2 linked regions of the Homo sapiens genome follow. The protein of the gene in region 2 interacts with the protein of the main gene of each other region in a biochemical or structural test. Each region holds a gene or a part of one and is shown on either strand. Other genes may lie near its edges.

Region 1 (3,500 bases), on a different chromosome or scaffold from region 2:
CTAAAATGTTGTCATTCATTCATTCATTCATTCAACATATGTGCATTCTGTGTGCAGATCACTATGCTATGTGCTACGAGTACCCTGGTAAGACAACCATTTTCTGTGTGATTTATACTGTCATAGTACTTACAAACTAGTGGGAAAAACAAATTGATCAGATAATCACAATAGTATTTATTTATAAATTGAGATCAATGCTTAAAGAGAAAGCAGGGCTTACAATAAAATATTCTGACTTACATGTGGATCTGGAATCTTGAAAAAGTGAAACTTAAGCTGAAATCTGAGTGATAAGGAAGAGTCAACTAGTTAAGGGGTATAGGTTGGAAGCTTTCCAGGCAGGGCAAGCAGCATGTGCCAAGGCCTTGAGGAAGGAGGGAACATGGTATTTTCAGAAAGTGAAAGCAGGATACTGTGGCCGCGTGTGGCCAGTGAGGGGAGAATAGCATAAGAAAGGCCTCTTTGGGCCTGGCCTTGAAAGGGTTTTGGTTGTGTTTTAAAAATACTTATCTATGACATCGTTGATTTCTGTCTTCAGTCATATACTTGGAAGATCTTCAAATATTAAAGCAATATATCTTTGCATTGAAGTGTGTCATTTTTTGTTTTTATTATTTTTAATTGACACATGACTGCACATATTTATAGGGTACAGTGTAATATTTTGATACATGCACACAATGCAATGATCAAATCAGGGAAATTAACATACCTGTCACTTCAAACATTTATTGTGTCTTCATGTTGGGAACATTCAAAATCCACTCTTCTAGCTATTTGAAAATGTAGAATAAATTGCTTTTAATTACAGTCATCTGACCCTGCTATAGAAACCAGAACTTATTCCTCCTATCTAGCTGTAATTTTGTATCCATTAACCAGCCTCTAGCTATTCCCACCCGCTACCTTTCCCAACCTCTAGTAACTACTATTCTGCTTTTGGCTTCTCTGAGTTCAACTTTTTTAGCTTCCACATATGAGTGAGAACATGTGGTATTTGTCTTTCTGTGCCTTGCTTATTTCACTTAACATAATGTCCTTCAAGCTCATACATGTTGTCACAAATGACAGGATTTCCTTCTTTTTGAAGGCAAAATAGTATTCCATTGTGGATATATGCCACATTTTCTTTATCCATTCACCTGCTGATGGACACTGAGGTTGATTCCATATCTTGGCTATCATGAATAGTGCTGTAATAAACATGGGAGTTCAGATATCTCTTTGACATGCTGATTTCCTTTTCTTTGGATATATACCTATTAGTGGGATTGGTAGTTCAATTTTTAGCCTTTTTGAGGAAAAGTTTGGATTTTTAACTTAACAACAACAGGATGCTTCTAAAGGACTTTAAACAAAGAAGTAACAGATTTGCAATTTGTGTAGGTTATTCTGGTGGCAGTGTGGAAAACGAATTGGAGGTGGGGGCATGCCAGTTTAAAGTAATATCTAATGGGCAGAATACAGACTTTGGGGACAGCCTCTATCCAGGGCCGGTGTCATCTTTTGGTCCAAGCTACTCTTATGTAAGAAAGGGACAATAGTACAGACGGCAGAAGAAAATTTTAAGGATTAAATGAAAAAGTAATTGTAGTAATCAACCATCATCATTTATAGATGAGGACTCTGAGGCTTAGAAAAGTTAAATAAGGCTTTTTGTCTGTTTATCTAGATGTTATGGAATGAGAGTGAGTGGAGTAGGAGATAAAGGCAGGGTGAAGGTCTGAAGGGAGAGAACATTCCAAAAACAAAAACAAACAAATGAGCAGTAAAACCAGATATAAGATCCTGGAGAAGCCAGATCTGGGAAAACCTGGTTGAAAGGATCACAGGGTCCAGCAGCCACATGGAATCCAGCTTCAATTGGCTCACCACAGTTCTTCCTCCAGAAAAAAAGGAGATCTGGGGATGTAACAACCCTTCACTTTTCAGTTTTCTTTTTTCATTTCCTAAGGGGGCTAGGTTAGATCAGTCTGTTATTTAGCCAGTAGGCAAAATAGGATAGTTCCCAGGGCTCTTCTACCCCAAACAAATCATCAGTGAAAATCTTCCCATTTGTTGTATGAAATCAGAAACTGCATTAGTAATGGGACAAAAGCCTTAATTACAGAATTAAAGATTTAACAAATTAAAAATAGTTAATCGTAATGCTGTTTTTTTAGTGTGAGGGAGTTTTAAATCAAATCAGCCTATCCAGAATTATGAATAGTAAGAAAGATGGGCACTTAACAGCTCGCAAACACCAGTGGGAGCAGGACTTGGGGAGAAAAACATGCAGAGGGAGGAGCTGATGCTATCTCTAATGATAAAGTTTGGACATTCATTAATTTTCTCCTTCAAAAGGGTGGGGCCAAACAGAAACTGGTCTTGAACTATTATGTATTTGCAAATTCAGTAGTTTACCTTCCTTTGATTCATCAATATATGTTTAACACAACTGGCTTATTATAATTAATTATTCTACTTAAAAATATTTATTGAGCATCTACCATGAGTTAGCCACTGTGGTAGGTACTGGAATGATAGCAAAAAGCAAAACAGACATTCGTGGAGATTTTACTTTTACATTATTTTGATCCCAGAAATTGTATTACTTAAGGCTTTGTTTATGAAATTCTTATTAAATGAATAATATATTATTTTTAAGTTGAAAATTAAGTCAAGAATGGATTTTTTTGGCTTGCTCTTGACATTTCTGTTAAGGCTGTATACTCCAGATTAGTGAAAAATCTTCAGGTGTTTAAGAACAAGATACTATATAAAGCAATGTGGTAATTGATTAATATCCCTTTGTGTATGTCAAACCACAAGCAATAGGGACCAATACATTTGACCTTTATAGTGCCCTGTACTGCAATTTCATTTACATAGCAGCTGATGTTGTAATTGATGTTGCATTTACTGAAACCATTGCCATTGTCTGTTTCAGGGCCGGCTTGATTCTCTAACAGAAGTGGATGACTCAGGACAATTAACCATCAAATGTTCTCAAAATTACTTGTCTCTGGATTGTGGCATTACTGCATTCGAACTGTCTGACTACAGTCCAAGTGAGGATTTGCTCAGTGGGCTAGGTGACATGACCTCTAGCCAAGTCAAAACCAAACCCTTTGACTCTTGGAGCTACAGTGAGATGGAAAAGGAGTTTCCTGAGCTTATCCGAAGTGTTGGTTTACTTACGGTAGCTGCTGACTCTATCTCTACCAATGGCAGTGAAGCAGTTACTGAGGAGGTATCTCAAGTATCTCTCTCAGTAGACGACAAAGGTGGATGTGAGGAAGACAATGCTTCTGCAGTCGAAGAGCAACCAGGCTTAACACTGGGGGTGTCATCATCTTCAGGAGAAGCTCTGACAAATGCTGCTCAACCCTCCTCTGAGACTGTGCAGCAAGAATCCAGTTCCTCCTCCCATCATGATGCAAAGAATCAGCAGCCTGTTCCTTGTGAAAATGCAACCCCCAAACGAACCATCAGAGATTGCTTTAATTATAACGAGG
Region 2 (3,500 bases):
ATGGTGTTTCACCATATTGACCAGGCTGGTCTCAAACTCCTGACCTTGTGATCTGCCTGCCTCAGCCTCCCAAAGTGCTGGGATTACAGGTGTGAGCCACCGTTCCCGGCCTACCCAAAATAATTTTAAGCAGGGAGTTAAACAGATAGTTATACTCCAGTGCTCATTGCAGCATTATTTACAGTAGTCAAAAGGTGAAAACATGGCACGTGCCTGTAATCCCAGCACTGGGGGGCCGAGGCGGGCGGATCACCTGAGGTCAGGAGTTTGAGACCAGCCTGACTAATATGGTAAAACCCCATCTCTACTAAATTAAAAAAAAAAAATTAGCTGGGTGTGGTGGTGTGCGCCTGTAATCCCAGCTACTCGGGAGGCTGAGGCAGGAGAATCTTTTGAACCCAGGAGGTGGAGGTTTCAGTGAGCGGAGATCACGCCATTGCACTCCAGCCTGGGCAACAAGAGCGAAACTGTCTCAAAAAAAAAAAAAAAAAAAAAGGTGGGCCAGGCCCTGTGGCTCATGCCTGTAATCCCAGCACTTTGGGAGGCCGAGGTGGGCGGATCACGAGGTCAGGAGATTGAGACCATCCTGGCTAACACAGTGAAATTCCGTCTCTACTAAAAATACAAAATATAAGCCGGGCGTGGTGGCGGGTGCCTGTAGTCCCAGCTACTCGGGAGGCTGAGGCAGGAGAATGGCGTGAACCCAGGAGGCAGAGCTTGCAGTGAGCCGAGATTGTGCCACTGCACTCCAGCCTGGGCGAGAGAGTGAGACTCCGTCTCAAAAAAAAAAAAAAAAAAAAAAAAAAAGGTGAAAACAAACCAGGTATCCAGGTATACATCCATAAATGAATGGATAAACAAAATATGGTATATATATACATAAGACCGAGTGTTGCTCTGTCTCCCAGGCTGGAGTGCAGTGGCACGATCCTGCTCACTGCAACCTCCACCTCCTGGGTTCAAGCAGTTCACTTGCCTCAGCCTCCCGAGTAGCTGGGATTACAGGCGTGTGCCACCATGCCTGGCTAGTTTTTGTATTTTTAGTAGAGACGGGGTTTCACCATGTTAGCCAGGCTGGTCTCAAACTCCCAACCTCAGGTGATCCACCCGTCCCGCCTCGACTTCCCAAAGTGATGGGATTACAGGCATGAGCCACCATACCTGACCATCCTTAAGAAGGAATGAAATTCTTATTCATGTTACAGCATTGAAAATATTATCCTAAATGAAATGAGCCAGATACAAAAGGACAAATAATGTATGATTCCACTTACAGAAGGTAACCAGAGTAGCTAAATTCATAGGGACAGAAAGTAGAAGAGAGCTAACCGAGGGCTTGGGGGAAGGTGTAATAGGGTGTTATTGTTTAATAGGTACAGAGTTTCAGTTTGGGATAATGAAAAAGTTCTGAAGTTGGATAATGGTGATGGTTGCACAATGTATGTACTTAATGACACTGAATTGTACACTTAAAATGGTGAAGTGGCACATTTTATGTACATCTTACCACAATTTAAAAAGGAAGAAAAAATGAATTGTATACCCAATGACATTAGAATAAGTCTACACTACTTAAATTAGAAATAGGATATGTTTCAACTCCAGAGCCAATAAAAAAAAGAACAAGAAGTATCATATGTAATAACTGTATATAGCAAGGAAGCTTTGCTTAGTGAGGTCCTTGTGACTAACCACCAATTCAGTTTATAAAATTGTATCCTATTGGAAAGAGTCAAAAAACTTACTAGCTGTTATTTTAATAACAGCTTTAATATCAAACAGGACATAACTTCAAAGTATAAAGTATTATAATGCGTATTTAATGTTGAGAGATGCCTGAAGAGTATAAACTTATTAATAAATTACTGTAGCTGCATACAAACAATAAATCGACATTCAGAATTGTTTCACTTCTGTAATTACCATAAAGCATTTATACTTGCCGGTCTCTCAGCATTTTTTTTTTTTTTTTTTAGGTAACAGCTTTATAGAGATATGCTTCACATACAAGTCAACTATTTAGAATGTATAATTGGTTTTTCATATCTGTGTGCAGCCGTCACCATAATAATTTTTTTTTTTTTTTTAGACGGAATTTTGCTCTTGTTGTCCAGGCTGGAATGCAATGATGTGATCTTGGCTCACTGCAACCTCTGCCTCCCGGGTTGAAGCAATTCTCCTGCCCCAGCCTCCCGAGTAGCCAGGATTACAGGCGCGTGTCACCACGCCCGGCTAATGTTTGTGTTTTTAGTAGAGATGGGGTTTCATCATGTTGGCCAGGCTGGTCTTGAACTCCTGACCTCAGGTGATCTGTCTGCCTCGGCCTCCCAAAGTGTTGGGATTACAGGCATGAGCCACTGCACCTGACCAACCATAACAATTTTTTTTTTTGAGACGGAGTCTTGCTCTGTCGCCCAGGCTGGAGTGCAGTGGCGCGATCTCGGCTGACTGCAAGCTCCACCTCCCAGGTTCGTGCCATTCTTCTGCCTCAGCCTCCCGAGTAGCTGGGACTACAGGCGCCCACCACCATGCCTAGCTAATTTTTTGTATTTTTTTTTTTAGTAGAGACAGGGTTTCACCGTGTTAGCCGGGATGGTCTCGATCTCCTGACCTCGTGATCCGCCTGCCTCGGCCTCCCAAAGTGCTGAGATTACAGGCATGAGCCATCGCGCCTGGCGCCATAACAATTTTTAGAACATTTTTCCTCACTCCAAAAAAAGTCCCATATACTGTTTTGTTTTTCTTTTCTTTTTTCTTTTTTTTTTTTAAAGATGGAGTCTCTCTCTGTTGCTCAGGCTGGAGTGCAGTGGTGAGATCTCAGCTCACTACAATCTCTCCCTCCTGGGTTCAAGCAATTCTTGTGCCTCAGTCTCCTAAGTAGCTGGGATTACCGGCATGTGCCACCATGCCCAGCTAATTTTTGTATTTTTAGTAGAGATGGGGTTTCACCATGATGGCCAGGCTGGTCTCGAACTCCCAACCTCAGGTGATCTGTCCACCACGGCCTCCCAAAGTGCTGGGATTACAGGTGTGAGCCACTGCGCCCGGTCACCATACACTTTAGTCATCACCTCACCAACACCCTCATTCCCCTCATCCCTAGGCATCCTCTAATCTACTTTTGTCTCTACCATTTGCCTATCCTGCATATTTCATATAAATGGAATCATATAATATGTGTTGTTGTTGTTTTTTTTTGAGCGGAGTCTTGCTCTGTCGCCCAGGCTGGAGTGCAGTGGCGTGATCTCAGCTCACTGCAAGCTCCGCCTCCTGGGTTCACGCCATTCTCCTGCCTCAGCCTCCCGAGTAGCTGGGACTACAGGCGCCCGCCACCACACCCGGCTAATTTTTTGTATTTTTAGTGGAGATGGGGTTTCCCTGTGTTAGCCAGGATGGTCTCGATCTCCTGACCTTGTGATCCGCCTGCCTCAGCCTCCCAAAGTGCTGGGATTCCAGGCGTTAGCCACCGTGCCCAGCCAATATGTGGTCTTTTGCCGCTG

What was found. Proteins that work in one complex are often made in the same cells at the same time.
Region 1: the proteins of PRKAR2A (region 2) and AKAP6 interact in a test that uses a peptide from one of them, tested with the Homo sapiens proteins (one study listed by BioGRID).

What each region holds. Positions count from the first base shown.
Region 1 is NC_000014.9:32,542,298-32,545,797, forward strand, and holds part of AKAP6 (A-kinase anchor protein 6), read left to right. Parts: intron 1-2,932; coding exon 2,933-3,500. UniProt on the Homo sapiens protein: Binds to type II regulatory subunits of protein kinase A and anchors/targets them to the nuclear membrane or sarcoplasmic reticulum. May act as an adapter for assembling multiprotein complexes.
Region 2 is NC_000003.12:48,837,875-48,841,374, reverse strand, and holds part of PRKAR2A (cAMP-dependent protein kinase type II-alpha regulatory subunit), read left to right. Parts: intron 1-3,500. UniProt on the Homo sapiens protein: Regulatory subunit of the cAMP-dependent protein kinases involved in cAMP signaling in cells. Type II regulatory chains mediate membrane association by binding to anchoring proteins, including the MAP2 kinase.